Linked DNA regions of Homo sapiens. The protein of the gene in region 5 interacts with the protein of the main gene of each other region in a biochemical or structural test. Each region holds a gene or a part of one and is shown on either strand. Other genes may lie near its edges.

The links.
Region 1: the proteins of GRK6 (region 5) and PDZRN4 interact in a test that uses a peptide from one of them, tested with the Homo sapiens proteins (one large-scale study listed by IntAct).
Region 2: the proteins of GRK6 (region 5) and MAGI2 interact in a test that uses a peptide from one of them, tested with the Homo sapiens proteins (one large-scale study listed by IntAct).
Region 3: the proteins of GRK6 (region 5) and APBA1 interact in a test that uses a peptide from one of them, tested with the Homo sapiens proteins (one large-scale study listed by IntAct).
Region 4: the proteins of GRK6 (region 5) and APBA3 interact in a test that uses a peptide from one of them, tested with the Homo sapiens proteins (one large-scale study listed by IntAct).
Region 6: the proteins of GRK6 (region 5) and MPDZ interact in a test that uses a peptide from one of them, tested with the Homo sapiens proteins (one large-scale study listed by IntAct).
Region 7: the proteins of GRK6 (region 5) and SIPA1L2 interact in a test that uses a peptide from one of them, tested with the Homo sapiens proteins (one large-scale study listed by IntAct).

The regions. Positions count from the first base shown.
Region 1 is NC_000012.12:41,562,320-41,565,819, forward strand, and holds part of PDZRN4 (PDZ domain-containing RING finger protein 4), read left to right. Parts: intron 1-1,228; coding exon 1,229-1,330; intron 1,331-3,500.
Region 2 is NC_000007.14:79,447,168-79,450,667, reverse strand, and holds part of MAGI2 (membrane-associated guanylate kinase, WW and PDZ domain-containing protein 2), read left to right. Parts: intron 1-3,500. UniProt on the Homo sapiens protein: Seems to act as a scaffold molecule at synaptic junctions by assembling neurotransmitter receptors and cell adhesion proteins. Plays a role in nerve growth factor (NGF)-induced recruitment of RAPGEF2 to late endosomes and neurite outgrowth.
Region 3 is NC_000009.12:69,515,372-69,518,871, reverse strand, and holds part of APBA1 (amyloid-beta A4 precursor protein-binding family A member 1), read left to right. Parts: intron 1-1,592; 5' UTR 1,593-1,661; coding exon 1,662-2,861; intron 2,862-3,500. UniProt on the Homo sapiens protein: Putative function in synaptic vesicle exocytosis by binding to Munc18-1, an essential component of the synaptic vesicle exocytotic machinery. May modulate processing of the amyloid-beta precursor protein (APP) and hence formation of APP-beta.
Region 4 is NC_000019.10:3,751,693-3,755,192, reverse strand, and holds part of APBA3 (amyloid-beta A4 precursor protein-binding family A member 3), read left to right. Parts: intron 1-852; coding exon 853-998; intron 999-1,087; coding exon 1,088-1,174; intron 1,175-1,266; coding exon 1,267-1,428; intron 1,429-2,202; coding exon 2,203-2,373; intron 2,374-2,472; coding exon 2,473-2,685; intron 2,686-3,500. UniProt on the Homo sapiens protein: May modulate processing of the amyloid-beta precursor protein (APP) and hence formation of APP-beta. May enhance the activity of HIF1A in macrophages by inhibiting the activity of HIF1AN.
Region 5 is NC_000005.10:177,429,676-177,433,175, forward strand, and holds part of GRK6 (G protein-coupled receptor kinase 6), read left to right. Parts: intron 1-1,196; coding exon 1,197-1,292; intron 1,293-2,035; exon of another isoform or gene 2,036-2,261; coding exon of another isoform or gene 2,262-2,319; coding exon 2,320-2,432; intron 2,433-2,557; coding exon 2,558-2,635; intron 2,636-3,030; coding exon 3,031-3,131; intron 3,132-3,471; coding exon 3,472-3,500.
Region 6 is NC_000009.12:13,273,193-13,276,692, reverse strand, and holds part of MPDZ (multiple PDZ domain protein), read left to right. Parts: exon of another isoform or gene 1-119; intron 120-3,500. UniProt on the Homo sapiens protein: Member of the NMDAR signaling complex that may play a role in control of AMPAR potentiation and synaptic plasticity in excitatory synapses. Promotes clustering of HT2RC at the cell surface.
Region 7 is NC_000001.11:232,623,634-232,627,133, reverse strand, and holds part of SIPA1L2 (signal-induced proliferation-associated 1-like protein 2), read left to right. Parts: intron 1-3,500.

The DNA.
Region 1 (3,500 bases), on a different chromosome or scaffold from region 5:
TAATTATGTCTGTCCTCATGCATCAGCCAGAAACCCAGAGACCTATGAGGAGAAAAACCTCAATAGTCTACTTCATGCTTTTAAGCAGAAGTCCTTAGTGAAAGACATTAGATTATTGAAAAAAGAATGGTCAGTGCTGCTACATTTTCCATCTGCTTCATTTATTCAAGTAATTAATACTATTTTAGACAGAATTACTTGATCTCTTTAATTGGAATTTCTTTCCCATTATTTGATTACATATAATTATAAATCAAAAATCTTGCTGTCTCTATGGAGTTGAGTAATCAATAAAAGAAAATAATTATTAAATATCCAAAGGAAAAAGTTTTATTAATTAAGAGCTAAATATATTTGCACATGAAAATGTAGTTTAAAAAAAGAAACTTTACAAATCTTATTTACTTTTTCTTTAGAACTTAGAAAAAGTAAAAAGATATATTTCTAATGTCACTGGAATCTTTTCCATGAAATCTAAAGTTTAGTCAAGCTTGGTTTCTTTCACTCATCATTATTTTAAAAATTCAATTTTACTCTATGTTAATATTTTTTAAATTTTTAAATTTAAGAGATGAGTCTGAAGATATTTCATTAGTTGTATTACTTTAGGAAATGGATAGATATTAGAAGGGAAATGGAGTATTGATGAGAATGTTATTTTACTTTGATCAGTTAAACACTGAGATTTATCCTGACGATGATGTTTGGGCAACTGGGTCAGACCCACACGCAAATATGAAATGATTAAATAAAAATGCAATCAGCAGTGGCCTGGGAGCATTGCCTGGTGAGAGATAATACTGCAGCTCTCTAATTGGCTCGCGGCAAGCGTGCAGGATGACGGATTTCAGTTGTGGTATTGCCAGTCCTTCTTCCCCCAGCACTATTATCTCAGAGTGACACTTCCATTACTCTGAGCGAAGAAAGATGAACGTCACCTGTCAGGAGCTGGTTAATTGTGTTGCTAGATGTATGTTGCCAGGGCGCAGGTTGGACATTTATGAACATAACTGCTTCCTCTGATGTCCGCCATCCTTCACGGATCGATATGGCTCTTACAGTAAGCGCGTAATTGAGTGAAGGCACTTTGAGCTGAGGGGCTGAAGATGAGCCCATTGTGTGAGCTTCATTGTCCATACATTTACCATAAATGAGCTGATATTTGCCATTTATTGTGTGCAGCATTGTGGAAATGGAAACTAATGTGCCACTCTCATTTGTTTTCTAGATAAATGGGGAAGATGTCCAGAATCGAGAAGAAGCAGTGGCCTTGCTGTCTAACGATGAGTGTAAGAGAATCGTGCTGCTTGTTGCAAGGCCAGAGATTCAGGTCAGAACAGAGATCAAAAGCCTTGAGACTGAACTTTATATTCATTGAATTCACTGAATGTAAATTCGTGAATGAATTATATTCATTATCTGCTATTCTCTATCAAATCATTATCACGGTTATCTCTCCCCATATAACCCACCAGATGGCCTATGTGGGAGTGAATTTTAAAAATAGATATGAAAGCAATTAAGGTATACAAAATACAATAAAGACTGATCTTTCCTAATTTATCAAAAGTATTACACATTAAAGACTTCCTTATATTGCTCCATAGAATGGCAGCTAAATATCCCTTTTAAGGGGGGAAAAGCATACCAAATTGAATTGTGATTCTCTCCTTCAATTTGCCACTTACTTAAATAAATACTCAAATGAAAAATGGCTGTGTGGATCCTTTTAATTCTGTGTGGATCCTTGCTTTAAGTTTCCATCTGAAAATACTTAAATGGCATATGAAGATATCTTGGAAGAAGCTCCACGAGAGAAACACTAGCCTATCTAGTCATCAACTTAAATCTTTTTAAAATAACTTTATCAATTAGAATGTCTTGTATAGCATGATCTGGTTCCATGTATAGTAAATGAATTGTTTCCAAGTTTAGTGTGACCAAAACAATTGTCCAGCCAAAAACTGATAACTTCTAAATGAATTTTTTAGATCTTTATGGAAGAAGATGTCATGAAAGTAGAGTAAAGGTAATGGAAAAAAAGTACTATTGGGGCTTCCTTTTATATCCTTTTTATCTCCCATCACAAGGCAGAAGGGACAAAACATTGTCACCAGTCTATCTATCTGTCAGTAGTTTGAATAAAGTTAGTTATATCGCCATTTGTCTCCTCGGTTATTGATATGATATTTTTCAGACTCAGTAACTACATACTATCTATAAATTACATTGAGTAAGTGTATTTCAGTGTCAGACTGAATCCTGACTTGAATATAGTGGTTATAAAAGATCACCCTTTCTGCATATATTTCGTTTATGCCCTTGCCCATTCTAAATGGTTCTCATAAAGTCTGCCATAGCCTGGGGCAGAGTAAAGTTACACACCTGAGGTCTTAGGAGTGGGGAAAAAAGCCCACAAAACCCCCACACTGCCTATGTGGGAGTGAATTTTTAAATACATATGAAATTATACCAATTATCTGGAAATTTCTCAACCCAGTTATCTCGCTGCTCCCATTTTCTTCAAAAAAGAACATAATAAAGGGGCTAAATGCATATTAGTGAAATTTATGATAAATTGAAGTTGCCATCTCTATTGTAGAGAAGATATTTTTATGTTATAATGTGGTTTCCCTGCCCTTTCCATGTAACTGCTAGAGAACCTCATTAATTTAGAACTAAAGCATTTCCTTAAACTATGCCACATAGTGGCCATAATGGGCTGTAGAAATAATAGAAATTAATAACATAGACCAGATCCTGTTAATCTTTGATGGAATACATATGCTGGGTAGAACCAGTGGAAAATTTGAGTATCTGGCTACACTTCTGACCTTTTTCTCCAAAAGAGTCAATGCTGAAGGATGAATTTTCAAATGAGACTTCCCTTTCCACATTTGATGAAAGATGGTTGTCTGACTCCATAGGATGCTGTCCTGCCTGTCAAAATTATGATCTGCATTAGCCCCTTGATCCTAAAGAAACCTTCATGACACTGGAAGGAAGCTAATTGCCTATAGAAAAAAAAAACAGATTTCCAGAGAAATCAGGAAAAGAAATACATTTTAATACCATACTTTTAAAATGTAATTTAATCAGTACATGCTATAAAGTGGCAAAAAAAAAACTAAAAAAAAAAAATCTTGTCTTTATATCACCCATATTTTTCCATTGAACTCAATTTATCTCATTGTTGTATGTTTTTTTTTTGCGTGTGTATTTTATTCGGGGAGAATGTGGAAGCTTTTGTGTGCTTTTTCTAGCTTTTTTTAAACATTTTTAACGTTTCAAATACTCTCTAGATTCTTGGAAATGATCTACAGAGTTGCTGGGGGCAGTATTGTACATCTGTGCAATATTTTTAAATAACTCATTTTCCTCATTTCCTGTCAACTCTCTTTCATTTTCTGCCCATTTTCTTCCTGAGACCATTAAAGATATTGCTTTTCTGTCCTATTTCCCTCAGGACACTGGGGCAGAGAGGATTCTCATAAGAACTT
Region 2 (3,500 bases), on a different chromosome or scaffold from region 5:
TATTGCTTTTAGAACTCAGAATATATGCTTCTAAAGTGATATATTGAGGGGAAAGTCTCTTTTCATTCTATATTAACCCTCAGTTTCGTGCTTCACTGGTTCATTGATGATAAATTTGTATAATGATAGCCAGAGAGCCCACAGTTGGTTCATCTCCTGAACCACTGCTGACCAAAAACAAAACAAAACAAAATATTTCTTTTACCTTTTGTGGAATAATTAATTCTCTTGTATATTCTTTTAAATATGATTCATGTTGCTATTCTAATAATTCTTTTCCTCGTCAAATCATAGATTAATTTTATTTATGATTATAAAAAATGAAATTTTTCAGAACCTTTACTATAGTGCCTGTGTGTCTTAGGTTTCAATACAGATGTCATTTACTGGAAAATCATTTAGAAACTCTTGGCCCAGTAGTTATGTTTCAAGAGATGCAAAAGCTAGCATAGCTGAAAAACTTAAACATGGTTTGTTTAGCAGTTGCGTTTTTAAAACATTAATGAGACTGATTTTTGAATATTCATTCAGACATTGGGTATTATACAGAAACTACAAGAATTATCATAGTTTAAGGAAGATTTTATAAAGAAAAGGTAAGATTTGAATAATAAGAATATTGTTAATAAGTGCACCAGGTAAAATTGCATTATTTACTTAATTTTATTTACTTGTTTGCCTAATTTTACATTACAGTTATCATAATTTTCATCTGTCATAATTTTAAAAGGAGGTGAGCTCCTTTTAAAATGTTGGGATTTTAAGACATTATATATATATATATATATATGTATATATCTCACAGTGTTTCTACACTGTTTAAATACCTGCAAAACAATTTTTAAAACTGTTTAATGAAATTCAAGGAATTATCTTTTTAATTTAAGCTTTCTGCTTTTAATCCACACAATAATAAACCACATATTAAAATATGGCTTATTGTCACATCCAATTCTTTTTTATAAACTATGGCATTTTATTTGTAATAATAAACTTTCCTCACCAAAGTATGTAATTCTAAATTAGCAGTAATTCTATGATCTCGTTAATGCATCAGACCCAGTTGAAGAAAGTTTTTTGAGTGATGTTGAGATCTATATGGAAGTGCTAAAGGTCTTCTTTCCTTTTTCTTTTCCCTTTTTTAAGGTTTGCCACTAAAGTTCACAGCAGCCAGTTACACAGGCCTTTGTGGCCTACATTCCTTGCACTATGGCTGCTATTGCATCTAATACCACATAGAGACCTACATAACCTGGACTTATTTTCCCATTTAGGGTCTCACAATGGGAAATAAAAGGCAAAAAAAAAAAAAAATTCTAATTCTTCCCATGTGGAAGATGGGCCAAATAAATCCTTTGAAATTCAGTTTTAGAGAAGATCTACATTGCTCTCCCTCCTACTGCTCCTTTCAAAGATACCTTCAAAGGAAAGTAGATCCACATTTATTAAGAGTCATACTTTCTTCTTGACTGACTTCAGGCTTAGAATAATAGAGTCAGATCTCTATACTCCTTTGTATCTGAAAAGGTAAAAACAAATTATGTCAAATTTTCTGAAAATAAAGATTGACTTTTTTTCTGTAGAAATGTGAGGTATATGAATAGTGTTGTTTAATAAACAAAACATTGTTTAAACATTTTGATCAGTTTATTATTTTAGAAATAAAGTACCATTAATGTTTTGAACAAGGTTAATGAGACGGTTCTCTTGGGGCATAATTTATAAGTGATACCACTGTAGTTTTCTGGTACATGTAGATAATTTAAATGGTATGACCTCGAATGTTAAATATGATTATTTGCTTTTTATCTGTACTGTCCCTATTCTTAACATTTACACTGTTTAATCTTTTGGCATGTTTATTATGCTCACTTTCCTTTTCATTGCTTGTAACTCACAAATTCACTTTCATAATGAGAAAAGCATATTCACATTTGACATCTCTGATTGATTATAGTTTAATTAATGACTTTCAAATACATACAGACCCTGGCAGAATCATTTTCCTCAGAAGGTGGGGTAGAGCAATGGTTAAAGGTACAGTCTCCTAAGTAGACCACCTAGTTTTAATTCCTGAGTATGTCAGTTAGTGCTAGCTATATGTACAAGATAACTAACCTGGGGTAGTAATGGCACCTTAAGAATATTAGATAAGTTATGTATTTAAAGTGTGTAGTGTCTGGCAGGTGATAAGCATTATGTAGATTTTAGTAAATGCTATTGCAAACATATTGGTCATTTTGAGCTAGTGACATTATGAGGTGTTTTTAATTTTCAAGATATTTTACTCAATTCAAATTAACTGAAAAATATGAAATGATTGACATTAATATAGAGTATTTTGCAAGTTGTATTTTAAGGTTTTTTTGCAGAATGAAATAAATATTTTATTTGAAAAGAATTTATTTGAAGAATAATATCAATAAATACAATGGAAAATATTTTCACTTTTTAAAAATAACTTCCACTGATCCTCCCTTTATGTGTAAACATCTGCTATTTTATATTTATTTTATACTTTAGACATAGTTTATTTTTACATAGTAATTTGTTTTCTTCATACCGCATATCTTTACTCCCAAAGAATTGCTGAATATATTGAATTATTTACTCTAAACTTGACAACATAGAAATCCTATTAGAATTTATTAAGTTTAGGAGTTTATACTTCTTATATTAATACATCATTGTAGTTAAGAGTAAGTATCATGCTGTTGAACTTTTACTTCTCAGCTAGAAATTAAGCACCTCATAAAGAATAACAATAATAAAAGTTAACTCTTAAGTGTTCACAGTCAACAATGTATAATAAAGAGGAAATGCATCAAATTCAGCAAAAATAATACTTTGCATTTGTGAGTATTGCAATGTAAATAAGTTAAAAGGCTATTTGTATTGCATTTTATAGTATTTTATACTATACTATTTTATAGTATTTTATGGTACTGTTAAAATACCATTAAATTTAAATACTATTTAAATACTATTAACGTACTATAGTACTATTAAAATACTATTTTATAGTATTTTCATACTTTGTATGAAAGAAATGCAATATAAGTAAGTCTGTGTATTAATACTGTTACAAGGTGAAGCAACCAACAATACTTCCACTGCTAGCTTCCCCATAATTTTAGCATTTTCGTTGAATTAATCCTATTTTACAGTTCAATGGAAACATCTACCTTGAAGCTCCAGGGTTCAGTATTAATTTCTAAAAATCTCTCCTAGCTATAATCTGGCTATATATTATGACAACAAACATACAACTGCCTTAGTTTAGTGACTTTATTATTACTTACTCCATTCTATTCTCAGCTCTCTTCTGTCTCTAGTAAGTATTTGTTATATTTCCTTTAATAAAAGTAAATTATCTTATATAGAAAACTTAGTAATATAATAATTGCTGAATTTACATTGTTAAAGACTTGCATAGGGACATACATAGTACAATGTCCATATCATCATAGATAATTAATAAAAATTGCTTTTATTATTAC
Region 3 (3,500 bases), on a different chromosome or scaffold from region 5:
TGGGATGGTCATCAATGCTTGAAGGAAATTGCTGTGGTTGTGATGGGGAGTTGAGTAGAATATAATGCATCTCACTACTAGAGAGTCCATCAGATGTCCCTGGTCCTCCTGGGGTTGTCTGTTATCATATTTAAGAGTTCACTTCCCATCCATTGTGTCCATTTGTAAGAAAGGCTCTCCAAAAGAACATAATAGCAAGTTTACACATACTGTTGAGCCTATTTACCATAGGGATCTCAAAATCATAGGGGTCCTGCCTGTTTTGTTGTGGTTGTTTACATTCTTTGTGTCTATTTCTATATACTGCACAGATTATACCATAAAGCTATTTTGTGATAAGAAGAATTGAGAGAGACTGAAACCAAATCTTTCTCTCGAGCTACAAGTTTCTCTGAAAATAGAAAGAGACCTACCCATATTTTTAAAAAATTACACCTGTTATCCAGTTCTAGCTATAATGGCAACTCATAAAATCTTAGAATTTTAGATTCAGGTTACATGGGGAAAGTGAATATAGTCCTCCCTTGGTATCCATGGGGGTTGGTTTCAGGACCCCAGTGGATATAAAAATCCATTATAAAATGGTATAGTATTTGCATATGATCTATGCACATCCTCCCATATACTGTAAATCATCTCTAGATTTCTCATAATACCTAATACAATATAAATGCTATATAAATTGTTGTTATACTGTATTTTTACTTGCATTATTTTTTATTGTTGTATTGTGTTGGATATTTTCCCCTAATATTGTCTTCCGTGGTTGGTTGTATCCTGGATGCTGAGTGCGCAATAGGGAAGCCTAACTATTAGAAACCAGCTGCTATGTAACATTGGCCTCTAGGAAAAAGTGTCTCCTGGTCAAACAAGTTAGGGAAACCCTGTGTCCTGCATCTTCCTCCTTCTGGATATTAACAATGAAAAGTCAACTGTAACTCAGCATTTTCCAAACTTACTTGACCACCGAGTCTTTTTTACCCTATATAATAGCTGTTAACATCCTGCATGTAGGAAATGAGTCCAGTCACACCGTGGAGGTCCAGAAAATTAAGCCACTTGCCTGAGGTCACAAAGTCAGTAATGACAGAACCGGGGCGGGACCCCACTGCTGGCTGATAGCCTCTCTCAGAATGGCTTCAAAAGGTGTTCAAGATTATGTTTCTTTGAAATTGATGTAAAGAGTGATTTCTAAAGTTGTAGGATCCTAGTTTAATTTGGAGAGATTTATCTGTTAGCAGATGGAAAATGTGTCAGTTGGCCCATTCAATTTAGTAGTACTCTTTATTCAGATGCATCAGAAATGGGACCTGAATCGTATGCGTGGTGGAGAACAAAACGTTCCTGAGGCGCTCAGTGTGAGGGGTGGGAACGGAGAAAGGCAATAAGCAATTAAACAAGTAGATATGTAATTACAAATTATGATGCGTGCTATGTATGTGCTGTCAGATTGAACTTAAATTTGCAGTCTTTTTTTAATTGACCCAGAACTAAAAGGAATCAATAGCAGTTGTTTTTATGGTTATCTGAATACTCAGCTCATAACGACTGTTTGCACCACGTGACAGCCTCTCCCCTTCTTGTTTTTCCAGCCCAGTGGAGCAAAATGAGAGCGCAGTGAGCCGGGCCCAGCTTCTCTCCTAGCCGTTCCGACTCCCACCATGAACCACTTGGAGGGGTCTGCGGAGGTGGAGGTGACCGACGAGGCGGCAGGTGGGGAGGTGAACGAGTCGGTGGAGGCCGACCTGGAGCACCCCGAGGTGGAAGAGGAACAGCAGCAGCCGCCGCAGCAGCAGCACTATGTGGGCCGCCACCAGCGCGGGCGAGCCCTCGAGGACCTCCGCGCCCAGCTCGGCCAGGAGGAAGAGGAGCGCGGGGAATGCCTGGCGCGCTCAGCCAGCACGGAGAGCGGCTTCCACAACCACACGGACACCGCCGAGGGCGACGTGATCGCCGCGGCCCGCGACGGCTACGATGCGGAGCGCGCGCAGGACCCCGAGGACGAGAGCGCCTATGCTGTGCAGTACCGGCCCGAGGCCGAGGAGTACACGGAGCAGGCAGAGGCCGAGCACGCCGAGGCCACGCACCGCCGCGCGCTGCCCAACCACCTGCACTTCCACTCGCTGGAGCACGAGGAAGCCATGAATGCGGCCTACTCAGGCTACGTCTACACGCACCGGCTCTTCCACCGCGGTGAGGACGAGCCCTACTCCGAGCCCTATGCCGACTACGGCGGCCTCCAGGAGCACGTGTACGAGGAGATAGGGGACGCGCCCGAGCTGGACGCACGCGACGGCCTGCGGCTCTACGAGCAGGAGCGCGACGAGGCGGCCGCGTACCGCCAGGAGGCCCTGGGCGCGCGGCTGCACCATTACGACGAGCGCTCCGACGGCGAGTCCGACAGCCCCGAGAAGGAGGCCGAGTTCGCGCCCTACCCGCGCATGGACAGCTACGAGCAGGAGGAGGACATCGACCAGATAGTGGCCGAGGTGAAGCAGAGCATGAGCTCGCAGAGCCTCGACAAGGCAGCCGAGGACATGCCTGAGGCCGAGCAGGACCTGGAGCGTCCCCCTACCCCGGCCGGGGGTCGCCCCGACAGCCCCGGGCTGCAGGCGCCGGCGGGGCAGCAGCGGGCGGTGGGCCCCGCGGGCGGCGGCGAGGCGGGGCAGCGGTACAGCAAGGAGAAGCGCGATGCCATCTCGCTGGCCATCAAGGACATCAAGGAGGCCATCGAGGAGGTGAAAACCAGGACCATCCGTTCGCCTTACACCCCCGACGAGCCCAAAGAGCCCATCTGGGTCATGCGCCAGGACATTAGCCCCACCAGGGACTGTGACGACCAGAGGCCGATGGACGGAGATGTAAGTAGGTGCGGGTTTGGGCTTCCTCGGCCCCACGCGGTGGGAGGGAAGATGGCGCCCCATGGCCTTGTGTGCCCTTGGGTAGTGACTTTACGGGAAGTAGTCTGTGGGGACGCTAAGAACTTTTCCACCGTAAGCCTCAGAAACAGCTTGCACCTAAACTGTCAAACGCCAGCGGGAGAGAATTAAAGTGTTGAATGCACTCATCAGATTCTTAGCAGGATGGCCTCAAATCAGTGCTTCCCACACTGTGCCTGGAGACCTTGTGAGAAATGCATTATTGGGTACATCGCCCTCCACCCCCCGCCCCCCCCCCCCCCAGTTTCTGATTCAGAAAGTATGGAGTGGGGCCCGAGAATTTGTATTTCTAATGCCAAATAAAAAACAAGCCATGCTTGAGGAAGGAGAGACTTCACTGGAAAGGATTATTGCAAAGGGGAGAAAGATACTGTTTCGTTTTAGGGAGGAAGGACTGTTGCCATATGAGAACCTCTGACCTTAAGATCTTTAAGGGTCTCTAGAGTTAGGTACAAGGGGGAAGTTGTTTTATAGGGAGGAGTAGCCAAGTAGAAAGAATAGGGTATGTGAAAGTGGCATGAAAAGGGTGGGAGTTGAATGTGCTGTGGATCAGAGAATGTT
Region 4 (3,500 bases), on a different chromosome or scaffold from region 5:
TCTGGAGAGTATGGGAATTTTAGACAGGCAGCAGGGTCTGTCTCTGTTCTGAGTGGTTCTACAACCCGGGAACAGAGCTGCCTGCTATCCTGGGCTGACTGCAGACGGTTCTAGAACAGTGGGCAGAGCTGGCCAGTTCTAGATTGATGGAGGGAATTCCAGAACCAAGAAGCAGGGGTCCACTGTGGTTCTAGAATGTTGTGGAGGTTTCGAAATTGGAGTGGGGGGTGGAGCGTCGTGGCTCACGCCTGTCATCCCAGTACTTTAGGAGGCCAAGGCGGGTGGATCACTTGAGGTCGGGAGTTTGAGACCAGCCTGGCCAACGTGGCGAAACCCCGTCTCTACTAAAAATACAAAAACTAGCCAGGCGTGGTGGTGGGCGCCTGTAATCCCAGCTACTCATGAGACTGAGGCAGGAGAATCGTTTGAACCCAGGAAGCGGAGGTTGCAGTGAGCTGAGATCACACCACCGAGCTCCAGCCTGGGCGACAGAGCGAGACCGTGTCTCAAAAAAGCAGGAGTGGGACTGTCTGGTTCCGGCCTGATCATGGAATTCTGGGGACACGGGGTGAAGGTATCTGTGGGTGCTAGATCTGGCTTTGAATCCAGCCATGGCCTGGACTCACTGGTTTCCCACCTGCGAGTCCTTGAGGGATGGACAGAAGGTTCTAGACCTGTGAGGGCCAGGCTGCTTGGATGGTTCTAGAACAGTGGGCTGTGCTTCCTGGCTGGAGAGTGCTAAGCCACCAGCTAGAACACTGTGTCTCCCGGCCATCTCGGAGAGCGTAGCCCTGGGGCAGAGCCTGTGGGAGTGGGCCCCTGGGGGCCGACCCTCTTCGCTGTCGCCCTCAGTGCCTGGTCCCTGTGACCATGAAGACCTCCTGGACGGTGTCATATTTGGGGCCAGGTACCTGGGGTCCACCCAGCTGGTGTCGGAACGGAACCCGCCCACCAGCACGCGCATGGCCCAGGCCCGGGAGGCCATGGACCGCGTCAAGGTGAGGGGGCGGCCGGGGCCGGGCGGGCAGGCGGGTGGGCTGCAGGCTGGGTCTGTGGGGGCCTCCACCTCCCACGCCGCCACCCACAGGCCCCCGATGGGGAGACCCAGCCCATGACGGAGGTGGACCTGTTCGTCTCCACCAAGAGGATCAAGGTCTTGACAGCGGACTCCCAGGTACGGGGCAGGGACCCGCCCCAGGGATGCGGGTGGGGTGATCGAGCCTGGCACGGCCCCCCAACCCACCCAGGCTGCCTCTCCCGCCCCAGGAGGCCATGATGGACCACGCCCTGCATACCATCTCCTACACAGCCGACATCGGCTGCGTGCTGGTGCTGATGGCGCGGCGGCGGCTGGCACGGAGGCCGGCACCCCAGGACCACGGCCGCCGCCTCTACAAGATGCTCTGCCACGTATTCTACGCGGAGGACGTGAGCAGCCAGGGCGCGGGGCCACCCTCCTGAGGCCCTCCTCACTGCAACTGTCGCCTCCCTCAGTGGGCCGTGCATTTAACCTCCCTCCCATAAGCTTATTTTTAAATTCTTTTTTTGGGACAAGGTCTCCTTCTGTCACCCAGGCTGGAGTGCAGTGGCGCAATCATAGTTCACTGCAGCCTCAACCTTCCAGGCTCAAGCGATCCTCCCACTTCAGCCTCTCTAGTAGCTGGGACCACCGGGGTATCACCATGCCTGGCTAATTTTTGTATTTTTTATAGAGACACGGTCTCGCTCTGTTGCCCAGGTGAACACGGTCTCAAACTCCTGGGCTCAAGCGATCCACCCACCTCAGCCTCCCAAAGTGCTGCAATTACAGGCGTGAGCCACCGCGTCCAGCCTCCTATAAGACTCCAAGACTCTCGGCCGACTCCCCGAAACCTTGCCCGCTCCTGGGCTGTCCCTGCCACCCATGAGGCCCCAGGCCCCCTGGCTGGGTCTTTGATAGCTTTTCCCACAGCCCATGCGCAGGGAGCTGCCTCCCTCATCGTCCCCCCAGCCCAGGGCTGCCCCTCCCCTTCCTTCTCCCCGTAGATTCCCCAAGATGCGGCTGTCTCTCCACCTCCCCCAAAGCCCCAGGGCAGAAGGCTGTGTCCTGGGACTCTCACCCCAGGTGGGGACAGGAGGGCTCAGCTCTGAGGACCCTGGGGACTTTGGGGACCTGGAGGAGGTGGGTGGGACACCCCAGGGACGCGCCACTCCTCCCCGCAGGCCCAGCTCATCGCCCAGGCCATTGGCCAGGCCTTCGCCGCCGCCTACAGCCAGTTCCTACGGGAAAGCGGTATTGACCCCAGCCAGGTGGGCGTGCACCCGAGCCCAGGCGCCTGCCACCTCCATAATGGGGACCTGGACCACTTCTCCAACAGTGACAACTGCCGGGAGGTGAGTGAGGTGCTGGGCAGCCCCCACCTGGTGCCCCCCACACCCGTGCACCTGCACCGGGCCCTGCTGAGCAGCCTCCGCGCCCCCTGTGTGTCCCAGGTGCACCTCGAGAAGCGGCGAGGGGAGGGCCTGGGCGTGGCCCTGGTGGAGTCGGGCTGGGGCTCCCTGCTGCCCACAGCCGTCATCGCCAACCTGCTGCACGGGGGGCCTGCTGAGCGCTCGGGGGCCCTCAGCATCGGGGACCGCCTGACCGCCATCAACGGGACCAGCCTGGTGGGGCTGCCCCTGGCTGCGTGCCAGGCCGCTGTCCGCGTGAGTTTCCTGGTGTGGCAGGGCCCCCACACTCCCAGGAAGGGGAGCTGAGTCCCAGAGAGGTCTCCTCCCTGGCCAGGTCTCTCCAGCCCAGCCAGGAGGGACAAAGTCGAACTTTTAAGTCCTGCCCACTGGTGTGCCCTTGGGGAAACTGAGGCCTGGAGAAGGGAGGCCACTTGTCCAGGGCACCTCCCTAGTACCAGAGCCAGGATGGAAATGCGGGTGGCCCAGCTCCAGGGCTGGGCCACTCTCTCTCTCTAACAAGAAACAGCTAATTTCTGGGGGGGTTTGTTTGTTTGAGACAAGGTCTCACTCTTGCCCAGGCTGGAGTGCAGCGGTGCACCTGGCTCATTGCAGCCTTGACCTTCTGGGCTCAAGCAAATCTCCTTCCTCAGCCTCCCGAGTAGCTGGGACCACAGGTGTGCACCACCACGCCCAGTTTATTGTTTTATTTTTTGTAGAGATGGAGTCTCACTATGTTGGTTGGCCAGGCTGGTCTTGAGCTCCTGGCCTCAAGTGATCCACCTGCCTCGGCCTCCCACAGTGCTGGGATTACAGGTGTGAGCCACTGCACCTGGCCATGTTTTTGAGTCTCAACCTTTGTTGCTCAGATGGGGAAACTGAGGCCCAGAGATAGGGAGGGACCTGCCCCCGTCAGAGGAATGAGGCCACAGTCCGTGCAGCCTCTTACAGATGTTTGCAGCCTGCCTGGAGAGCCCGGCTGTCGGCTTGGCTTTTGGCCATAAGGAAGCGATATGGCTCGGGTCAGACAGCTTCGACCCCATGCCCACCGGGCCCGAGTCTGTTCTCTATCA
Region 5 (3,500 bases):
ACCACCTGCCCTCACCCAGGCCAGATGGATACAGGACTAGAAAGCCAGAGGGGAAACTGAGGCCCAGCATGAGAAAGTGGTTGTCTAAGGTTGCCATGGCGTTGTTGGAGTTGGGGTTCACCTCTTGACTCAGCCCTACTTGATGTGGACAGTGTCTCCCATTCACTACGTAACACACATGGAGAAGCTGAGGTTCACAGATAGCGAGTGATGGGCCACAGTGTGAATCAGAGATTCAGACCCAGCTCTGGGAGGCTCAGGCCCCTTCCACCCTCCTCAACCTGGTGGCCCACAGGCCACACACATTTGGCTAGCTCCCTGACACATTTTATTTGGCTGCAGTGAGTTTTTTTTTTTTTTTAAACAAAATGGGGGCCAATATTTTATGTTAGAGTCTGCAATTCCGGCTGCTTTTGAAAAAATCAGAAGAGCTGGCCACATTGAGCCAGAAACCCTCCTAGCAGCAATCAAGCAATCAGCTGGCGTTCTCCTGCAGCTGGCCCTGTCAGAGAGGCCTTCGCTGTTCCTGGTCATCTCACATCTGGCCCACGTTTCCCACACCTGTTGGGCTCTGCAGGCAATCGAACTGCTGCTGTGACCTCAGCTGCTGCAGATGGGGTGTCTGCGAGGTCAAGCAAGACAGGCAGGGGACCGGGGAAGCCCCAGTGTGCAGGGGACGGGGAGTCCTGGGTGCCAGCCCCCTTGCCCCTGCCTCATTTGAGCGTCTGATATCTCTGATGTGGGGCCTGGTGATAGAGGCCTGGGAGCCTCCTTGTCCCCATGCTGCCCTGTGCGTCTCTCAGGCCTGCCCCACTGGCCTAGAATCTCTCCCTCCCGGGCCTTCTGCACTTCTCAGCACTGTGACGTCCTTCTCCCCTTTCTTCACCGGGGGAACTCCTACCTGGCGGGAAGCAACTGGGGCTGGACCCATTGTTGGAGCTACTTGGAACACTGTCCTCCCGCAGCGACCTCACTGCCTCTCTTGGCTCTCCCAGTGCAGGAGCCTGAAGCAGGAGAAGCACGTGTGTCCTGGAACGCAGCAAGGGCGTGCTGGAGCGTGCAGAGGGAAGGCCTGAGGTGCTGTTCTGCCTCAGCTCTGCCTTGGCTGGGCCCTAGAGGCCGTGGACCGCACTGAGGACCCAGAGGCAGTTCTGAGGCAGTGGGACTCGAGACCCAGTGTCCTATTGCTCCCACAGGTGGCGGTGGAAATCGCAAAGGCAAAAGCAAGAAATGGCGGCAGATGCTCCAGTTCCCTCACATCAGCCAGTGCGAAGAGCTGCGGCTCAGCCTCGGTGAGGCCTGGGCAGAGACTGGGGGTGCTGAGGCGAGGGGCCCTGCTGGGGCCGGGGGAGCCTCCCCTGAGACCTTGCCCCGGAGCAGAGGGGCAGACTTGGGGGCTCCAGTGAGCAGGAGGATGAGGACTGCACCATTCAGCCCAGTTTCAGTTCCTGGGCTTGGGACGGGTGGAGAGCAGACAGCAAACAGGGTCACACCGAGGGTGGTTGAAGCGGGTGTCGGGAATAGGGCAGGGGCAGATTGGGGCAGTTGATTCCACTTTGAAAAGGAGAGCCAGCTAGGGTGAGCAGGGCCCACAGGACAGAGGGAGCAGCAGCTGGGCCAGCCCACAGACTGACTGCCTTGGGACCCCCAGGCTGGGGCGTAGCCTCCCAGGCCCAGCCCTGAGGGGTGCCCAGCAAATCCTTGACCAGAAGCCCTCAGCCTGGGCAGTGTGACAGGGTTACTCCTGGGAGGGGACAGAAGGGCCCAGGACCCCAGTTCCTGCCAATCTTGGCCAAGGCCCCAGGTCTGAGCAGCACCCAAGGTTGCTGAGGCCCCCGGTGGCCTGCACGTGCGCAGAGCACACCCGGGCTGCTTCCACCTCCTGGGAAGGAGGCCCAGCTGAGAGCCTGCCGGAAGCCACAGCTTCCTCTCGCACTTTCGCCAGGCAGGCAGCAGGTGTGGGCCTGGCCCCGGCTGGGCTGGGCCGGAACCTCACGGACCGCACCCAACCCCAGTACCGTGACATACGCAAGTCGTGTAAATCAGGAGACAATGCAGGGAGGTGGATGGAGGCCTGGGCTCTGGAGCCAGACTCCCGGCTGTGTGACACTGAGCTAGTCAGTTAGCCTCTCTGGGCCTCACAGCCCCAAAACAGCTGTGCCCACCTGAGGGTTGTGGTGAGGGTTCTGAAGAAGATTGTGGCTACCACACTGCAGAGCTGGAAGCTGTTGTGGGGGCCCAGGGCCTGGTGGTGTGGGCACATGCCCCACCCATGTGCTCTCGGGCTGTGGACCCAGCAGCTTCCATCACTGCCAACAGAGCGTGACTATCACAGCCTGTGCGAGCGGCAGCCCATTGGGCGCCTGCTGTTCCGAGAGTTCTGTGCCACGAGGCCGGAGCTGAGCCGCTGCGTCGCCTTCCTGGATGGGGTGGTGAGTGCAGCCCAGCCCTGCCCAGCCCCGCGGGTGGCCGAGGTCCTGGCCCCATGTGCCCCTCCTCCCCACACCTGCTGCTTGCCCTGCCCAGACCTCCAGCTTCTTTGCTTTCCACCCTGCAGGCCGAGTATGAAGTGACCCCGGATGACAAGCGGAAGGCATGTGGGCGGCAGCTAACGCAGAATTTTCTGAGCCACACGGTGAGTGAGCAGCGATGGAGAGATGATGGGAGCCACCAGAGCCCCGTGTCAGGCACAGGAGTGACCACAGTGTCAGGCTTCTGAGGGTGGTCTCTTCATACAGACACATGTAACACACAGCCTGGACAGAGAGTGCCCTGGAGCTGCTCCAGGCAGCACGGCGGGCATGCAGCCCAGGGTATGGGCTGGGCTTGGGCCAGGCGGCCTCCCAGTGGCTCTGCTGCGCTCTGCCTCATGGGTGGGCAGCAGGAAGGACTTCAGCAACCAGGCTGGCTGGCACACCCTGGCCTGCAGCCTCTCATGGCACCAGCCCGAGTTGCCTGACCCCTCTCCCCTGGAAGTGGGCAGCCATCCAAGGGAGCCCCTGCACTGACCTGTCTGGGGCTTGTTCCCAGGGTCCTGACCTCATCCCTGAGGTCCCCCGGCAGCTGGTGACGAACTGCACCCAGCGGCTGGAGCAGGGTCCCTGCAAAGACCTTTTCCAGGAACTCACCCGGTAAGCCTGTCCCTGCCCACAAGCCTGGAATTATGCCCAGCGGAGGGGGCTTCTGGGGGCCAGGAAGACTGTGAACAGCTCGGTGGCTGGTGAGGGAGCTCAGCTGCCCAGCCCTGGCCTTGCCCCTGCTGTGTGACCTGAGCAGGCTGCCTCCCCTCTCAGTAGCACCCACAGCTTCAGCACAGGCTGTGTGTCTCCCCGCTCAGGGGTTAGCAGGAGGACTGGCCGACGACGATACCTGTGGGCTAAGCCTGTACAGAACGGGAGGCCTGGCCCAGCAAGCCAAGAGCCTGAGGTGTCAGGGGCTGGCGGGTGAGCTGGGCCTGCCTTTCCTCAACAGGCTGACCCACGAGTACCTGAGCGTGGCCC
Region 6 (3,500 bases), on a different chromosome or scaffold from region 5:
AAGTTGGACTGGAATGTCCCCAAATATGGTAGAGCAAATAGCACATCTGCCAGAGAAAGATCCTACACTTTAAAGAGAAGAAGCAGACAACTTCCTGGTGAATTTAGGACTGCTTGATGGTGCGTATGAGTGATGATATATGTCCAAAACAGTTGTATGTACTTTTGAAAATAGATATTTGGCCTAAAGTAGGATTTCATTTGATATTGTTACGTACATTATCAACCCCATATTTATAACAATAAAGGTTTCATTTTTTCTTGTAAATTAGTGTCATGCATAGGAGAGCATTTATATAAGTACAGTTCGGAAATGATATTTAGCATGGTAAAATTGATATACTGTGATTAAATAATTTTAGTGGGATTCCATGTGGGAGAATAAGACTAAGGAGGTAAATAACTACTTCTCGATAAAGGAAACCAGTGGTGAGGAATCCATTGCCTTCCTGTGATACGTTTCCAGAGAAGATCCGAGGTATTCATGTAGTAGGTAGTAATAGATGGATTAGGAAGAATGTTGTATTGGGTTAGGCATTGGGGAGAGTACAGAATAAACATGATTCTGCTCCAGAAGTGTAGGGTCTTAGTTGGAGGAATCTAATGGGAGAAATAACAGAAAGGTTTTACATGTTAAAAATGTTACAGGGATTCTAGGAAAGTAGTGAAGTATAGGGATTAGTTGCTCTTATCATTGAGGTTAGTAAATAAGACACAGAAAGGCTTTGGTCTTGAGATGAGAGGGTGGAAATGAAAGTTTTTTTGATATGAAGTAGAGCTTAAGTCAGTGGTTTTCCCTTGAAAATGGACATGTATAGAAGAGGCTGGGATGTGAGTGGGCAGTGGGTACTGGAGAGCATATTCAATTTGTATATTTCTGGAGTGGAATAGAGGATTTGTGCCCAGGGGAAAAGGTTGGATAGGGAAGAGCAATTAATGGAGAGCAATGAAGTATAGGCTGACTTTTATCTCTTGAAGTTTCCACTTTCCAATAACCCAAGTCACATTTCCTTCTGAGAGTTAACCTCTTCAGTGCAATCTGGGCTTTTTCTAACATGCACCCTAAAACGTTTGTAGCCATTACCTATTACCCAGTTCCAAAGCCACTTCCACATTTTTGGTGTTTGTTACAGCAGCACCCCATTTCCTGGTACCAAAATCTGTATTAGTTTGATAGGGCTGCCTTGACAAAATAACACAGAGTGGGTGGCTGAAACCACAGGAATTTATTTCCTCACAGTTCTGGAGGCTGGAAGTCTAAAATCAAAGTGTTGGTGGGATTGGTTTCTACCAAGCCTCGCTCTTTGGCTTGTAGATGGCTGAGTTCTCCCTGTTTCTTCACATGCCCTCCCTCTGTGTATGTCTATAGCCTAATTTTTTATAAGGGAACCAGTCATATTGTGTTAGAGCCCACCCCTAGTGACCTCATTTAACCTTTATCTCCAAATACAGTTATATTGTGAGGTACAGGGATTAGGATTTCCTGTGAATTTTTAGGAGACACAGTTTAGCTCATAACAAGGTTCTCAAAGAGACTTAGTGTGTAAACTAGTGAGACTCTGAGGCAGTGAGCTCGTATTGGAGGCTAGTGCATAGTCTGAGCATTACTGGGGTAATTTGATGTTTGGCAAGAAAGGGAAGCTGCTATTTGAGGACAAAGGTATTTTATCTTTGGCCTGAGGCCACTTATTTTCTTTCTCTGGATGTTCATTGGGAAATTGTGCCTCTGTGGCCTTTTTGTGGACAGAGCATTAATTTTTTTTTTAAGTGTTTTATAAAAGCATTCGTTTTCTTAAAATATTTCTTTTAATGGTTCTTAAAAATAGTAAAGCGCTAAATTTGGCAAAGCTGAAACACTGTGTTGTAAATGTCTCAGTGGTTTTTGAGTCTGATTAAAACAACAGAATTTATTCTTTAAATTCCATTGATCTAAAAACTGTCTGTCTTATACGTGTTTTGTGGGGTAATGTATGGCATAATCTTTTTTCCTTCAGAAATGTTTCCCCCTTTTGGGAAAATATGATTAATAAAAGGGAATTTATGTTACATAAAATAAAAACTTTTTTTTTTTTTTGTTTTTTAGGTGTTGCAATTTTATTTGTTGAGTTAATGAAACCATTAGAGCCATTCTTCCCAATCTGGCCAGCTAAGTTAAAAATAAATAAATAAATAAAAGGAGACAAACTCTTACTTTTTTTCTTCTGGCCTGTCTGCCTGTGGTGGTTAAATTTGTTTTGTTTAGGGAATTCTTATCTTTATCCACTTTTTAGTTTTATTTGTGTCTGCAAAAGCAACATTCATTGTTATTTTCTTGTAAACCACTCTGCCTCCAGATCCAAGGTGCTATAAATAAGTGCATGAGGGGAAAGTGAAAAATGAAACATTTATTAAAAAAGAAGAAAAAAAACCCAGTAACATCAACTACCAAAAAAAAAAATTAAGAAAAAACTTAATGTTGTTGCTTATGTTTTAAAATTATTTTGATAATAAAATACATAAGGTAATTATTTATTTTAGTAAATAGCACATTTTAAAAGGTATGGAAGATACAAGTGAAAAGAAGACGGAAAGCTTGCCTGTAATTAGATCACCCAGATACCACTCCCACAAGAAAATCCCCAAGACACATATTTTGAAAATGAAGATATTTAAGTTATTTTGATATAACAAATGGATAGAGCAGCTGTTGATCAATAGATTTCACCAATTGCTGCCTTTCTAAATGAGCATCATCTGATCTGAGATTATTAAATGTTATATAATTTGAGTTGATACTAATAGCATTTGTTTGAACTGATGTCTCAGGTCTTTTGAAGAGATATGATACAGTTCACTACCACGTGGCATGTAGGATACCAGTGGAGAACGTATTTTAAAAAATTTTGATTTCTGCTTAAAATTAAGTGTTAATAGTCAATGTTTATACTGATTATATGTTGAAATAATAATTTGAAGAAAGTGGGTTAAATAAAATATATTATTAAAATTAATTTCACCTACTTCTGCTTTTTTCTTTACTGTGGCTACAGACAAAATTACATATGTGGCTCACATGATATTTCCATTGGCCAGAGCTGATCTAGAATGATGCAGATCATCCCCTCTCCAACTCTTGGTGTGTTTGATAATCTGAATTGTAACATATACAGAATGGCAATTATTTGAATAATTTCAGCACCAAATTACTCCTTTGTTAACCAATTCACTATATTGTTAATTTCACAGTAACTTTATATTGTGTACTCAGGTGGCTCCATAGGATACCTTGCTTCAGGGAACTGTCATAGAAAATGGTCATGAGAAGCTATCCTTCTGTGTTCATAAGATATCACTAACGTAACAAAACCATGATGATAGAGTCATAAAGATTAAAGATTATTCTACAATTTAAAAACTCCTTTCCGATATATTTAAGATATGTCCAGTTTCTCTTATACCTTGCTAGGCCCCTGTTTTAGTTCATTTCGGGTGCTATAACAAAATATCAAACACTGGGTCCCT
Region 7 (3,500 bases), on a different chromosome or scaffold from region 5:
TTACAAATCCTTTTAAAGACACACTGAATTTGAAGAAAATTTAGACTAGGGTATTGTTAATTGAAAAGCTGCTTTTTTTTTTCTTTCTGTTTTGAACTTCAATGAAATACAAAGTACAGTCCTAGAGAATAGTGAACCATGTTCTAGGTTTTCTACTTCTGTTAATGTGCCTAATTCATTTGCAGAGTGAGAGTAGAAAAAGCTTTAGGCACAGACAGGAACCTTGAGCTTCCTGCCTCTACCACCTGTCACAAATGAATTTGGATGAAACTATTTTCATGATCCCTTTCAGCACCAAAATTTGGGGTTTCTTTAAGGTTTAAGACGAACGCATTAGAGTAATGAAAATGCCTGTCTGACTGGGATGTTTATATTTTTCATGATTATGTCATTTCTTTGCCTTGGCCTATAGTAAGTTTGTATGTGAATGCTTTGCATGAGGGTCATAGCTACTTGGTTTACCTTGAAATCAATGATTCAGAAATTGCTTTTTGTGTTCCAGTTGCATGTAGCTGTGACTCCTTTTAAAAGTGTGGTAACAATGTGGTAGGAATTTAAAAGCTTCCCAACTTTAGACATAGATTATTTTGATCCTTTCTGAACTGGATTCATAAACTTTGGTTCCAAAGAACAGCAGCTGTAGAAGGGAGCCAGATCTTGACTCACTGTTGAGGTTCTGCTTCTTGAGAGATTTCATATTTAGTGCAACCCAATTCCTTGGTTCGTTCTTCTCCCCCAGTACTAGATAGCCAAGTTGGGTGGTAGGAAGGAAGAAAATATGCAGCAAGTCGAGTCTAGTTGTCATGCTCCTTTGGGCCAGAAAGGACCTTAAAGATTGTCTCGTCATGTTGTTCCTATACCTTTTGTTTTCGTCTACCTGTAAAATGAAAAAAAAAAAAAAAAGCAAATATTAGGGATTGTCAGATATGTCAGCATTTAATGTTGCTACATAAGTGTGTTTAAAATTGACAACAGCAGTTACTACCTATTGTCAATGCATTTCGTCAAAATCCTTTTGATGTACCAAAAAAGAGAAAAGGTGGGGAAAGGGGGAAGAATATGTATGCTGTCAGACTTAAAGGAGAGTTCTTCCTATCCAGAGAGGAGCTGTGTTAAAATTACCCCACTCGTGGATTTATATCTATCCCCACACAGACACTTTTTTCTTTTGCATGGGTCAATGAAAAATTCACTAAGGACCGGGGTTTAGAAATCACTGAGTAGCTCAACTAACCCTTCTTTGATATTTGGATCCTTTTATATAATCTCTGTAAGTGGTCTTCCGGTAATACCTGAACATTGCAAGTAACGGGTGGTGATTTCCACCTTTTAATGGTTTTGAGTACTAGAAAGTTTTTTGGCCTATAGAATTGAAATCTGATTCTGCTTGTTTATTCAAATTCTACTGCCTTGGTGGCCTACAGAACAAATCCTTCAGTCTCTGTCAGAGTTGGGCTCTTGGTGTAACGTGACCCGTGAACATGACCTGTGTAGAGTACAGCAGGAGTGTCTTGTCATAGGTTGCATGTTGCTTGCACTGATGTAGTCCAAGTTTGCATTTACTTTTCTGGTGGCCAGACTCAACGAGTTTCCTTTTCGCTAAAACCTGCCGAGCCGTTAATCACATGCTGCCATTGAACCTCGTCTTTCCATCTTGCGCTGATGTCATTGCAAAACCTAACATTTATTGCGCTGTGGTTTTGCTTTATTTTAGCTGATTCTTTCCATCATGCTTTTTAGAATTTGATTATATTATTTGGCACCTTTACCTGTCCTCCCAAAGAAATGCTGTCTGTACATTATTAGATCAGACTCTTTTATATCTTTACTTAAGCCGGTGATGAAATTGTTAAACTGGCTGAACAACACGAAGTGTGTCTCTGGAAGCTTCCCTCGAGGCTTACAAGGAGTCACACTCTCGGTTATAGTTAACTACTAATGCTCTTCATATCTTATAACTAGCCCATATAGCTCCACCTTTCCACATGGATATCCTGAAAGAGTGTGTCAAACCTCCTTTGCTGGTTCTACTGACCAAGTTATGCTGAGTAATAATGAGTTCATTTTCAGTGTGTCCCTAGTAACGAGCACTCTCTTCTGCATATGATTAAGAAAATGTGTTAAATGACTGACTGGATTGAGACACTAGGGTCACACTGTGATCTGTGACCTCCGGAGGCCTTAGGAACTGCAGTGCTTCTAGGAAAAATCAGAATATTGTTGGACTTTCTTCAGCTTATTTTTTGGTTTGGTATTCTCTTGTGTTGAATTGCTTTCAGATAGTGGGGAAGAACACCACAGTCTCTTCCGGTTTTGTTTTAATTGGTTGATATACTTCTCTTCCTATTTTACTAATAAACATTTAGCCAAAAGGGGTGTCTTGAACTCTGCCCATTAGATTACTCCATATTTTTCACTTCTACATATTTGCTTAATCTTCTGAGAAATATCCCCATTTAGTTGAGTTCCTCAAGAAATCAGAACAGTCCGAAGTAAGCTATCTGGTAGTTTATTCAAACTCTTAAGTAAAAATATCTAGGTAAAGAGCCAGTGTTAAAAATTGTTATTGTGGAAAGTAAGAACTCCTGGGTGAATAAAAGATTATGTCTGCTGAGATGAACTATTGTGTGGAGTTTTAAAAGAAAGTTCTGGTTAATGCTTAAGACATAGTGTCCTGTGAAGTCAGCATAACTACTTTCACTGTCTTCTGGAGGTGGTTTTGATAACACATTTGGTTCCTTGTTGAACAGTGGGTATTCACATTGTTCAGGAATAGCTTTGGGATACTGTCCTCTCCGTATTGAAGTTTCTAATAAGTAATTTTAGGAATTATAGTTTTGATTCTTTGTACAGGGCAAATGCTACCTGTTTCAGGTGTTTAAATGGCCTAATGCAAGAAACAGTGGTTTCTTTTTAGCAGGTTCTCAAGGTTCTCAAACTTTTTTCAACGTGCATCCCATCTATACACAATTGTCTAAGTGTTCATGTATGTATGCGTATACATGTATACATATCTGCATGCACGTTTGTGTGTGTGTATATGTATAATATATCTGTATGTATAAACATATACTTTACTGTGCTAAGATATTATGGACATAAAACAAATGTACATTTTAAGAAGATTAATATTAAAAATAAATAGATGTAGAAGTATTTTCTCTGCATCTCAAGGGCATTTGTATCTTTGAAATGTGTGGCCCCTGTGTAGAGACCACTGTTGTACTATCACTGGTTAGAGTTTATAGCAGTTGAGAAATGGAATTTCTAGGGAGCCTGTAGGGTCTTGTGAGGCAAGCGGAAGACAAACTCCACTCTTGATGGGCCTTATATTTACTGTGTATTTATTCTTTTTCCCGAAGACATTTCTGACTTTGGCCTGTTTTCTTCCAGAATTGCTTGTGGGTCTTGGTTTGGGGTTTCATTTATTGAGGGGTAGGAGGTTAATGTAATGGCGATGCTATTCTCCTTAGAAAGTTTCTAATTGAACTCAGCTGTTT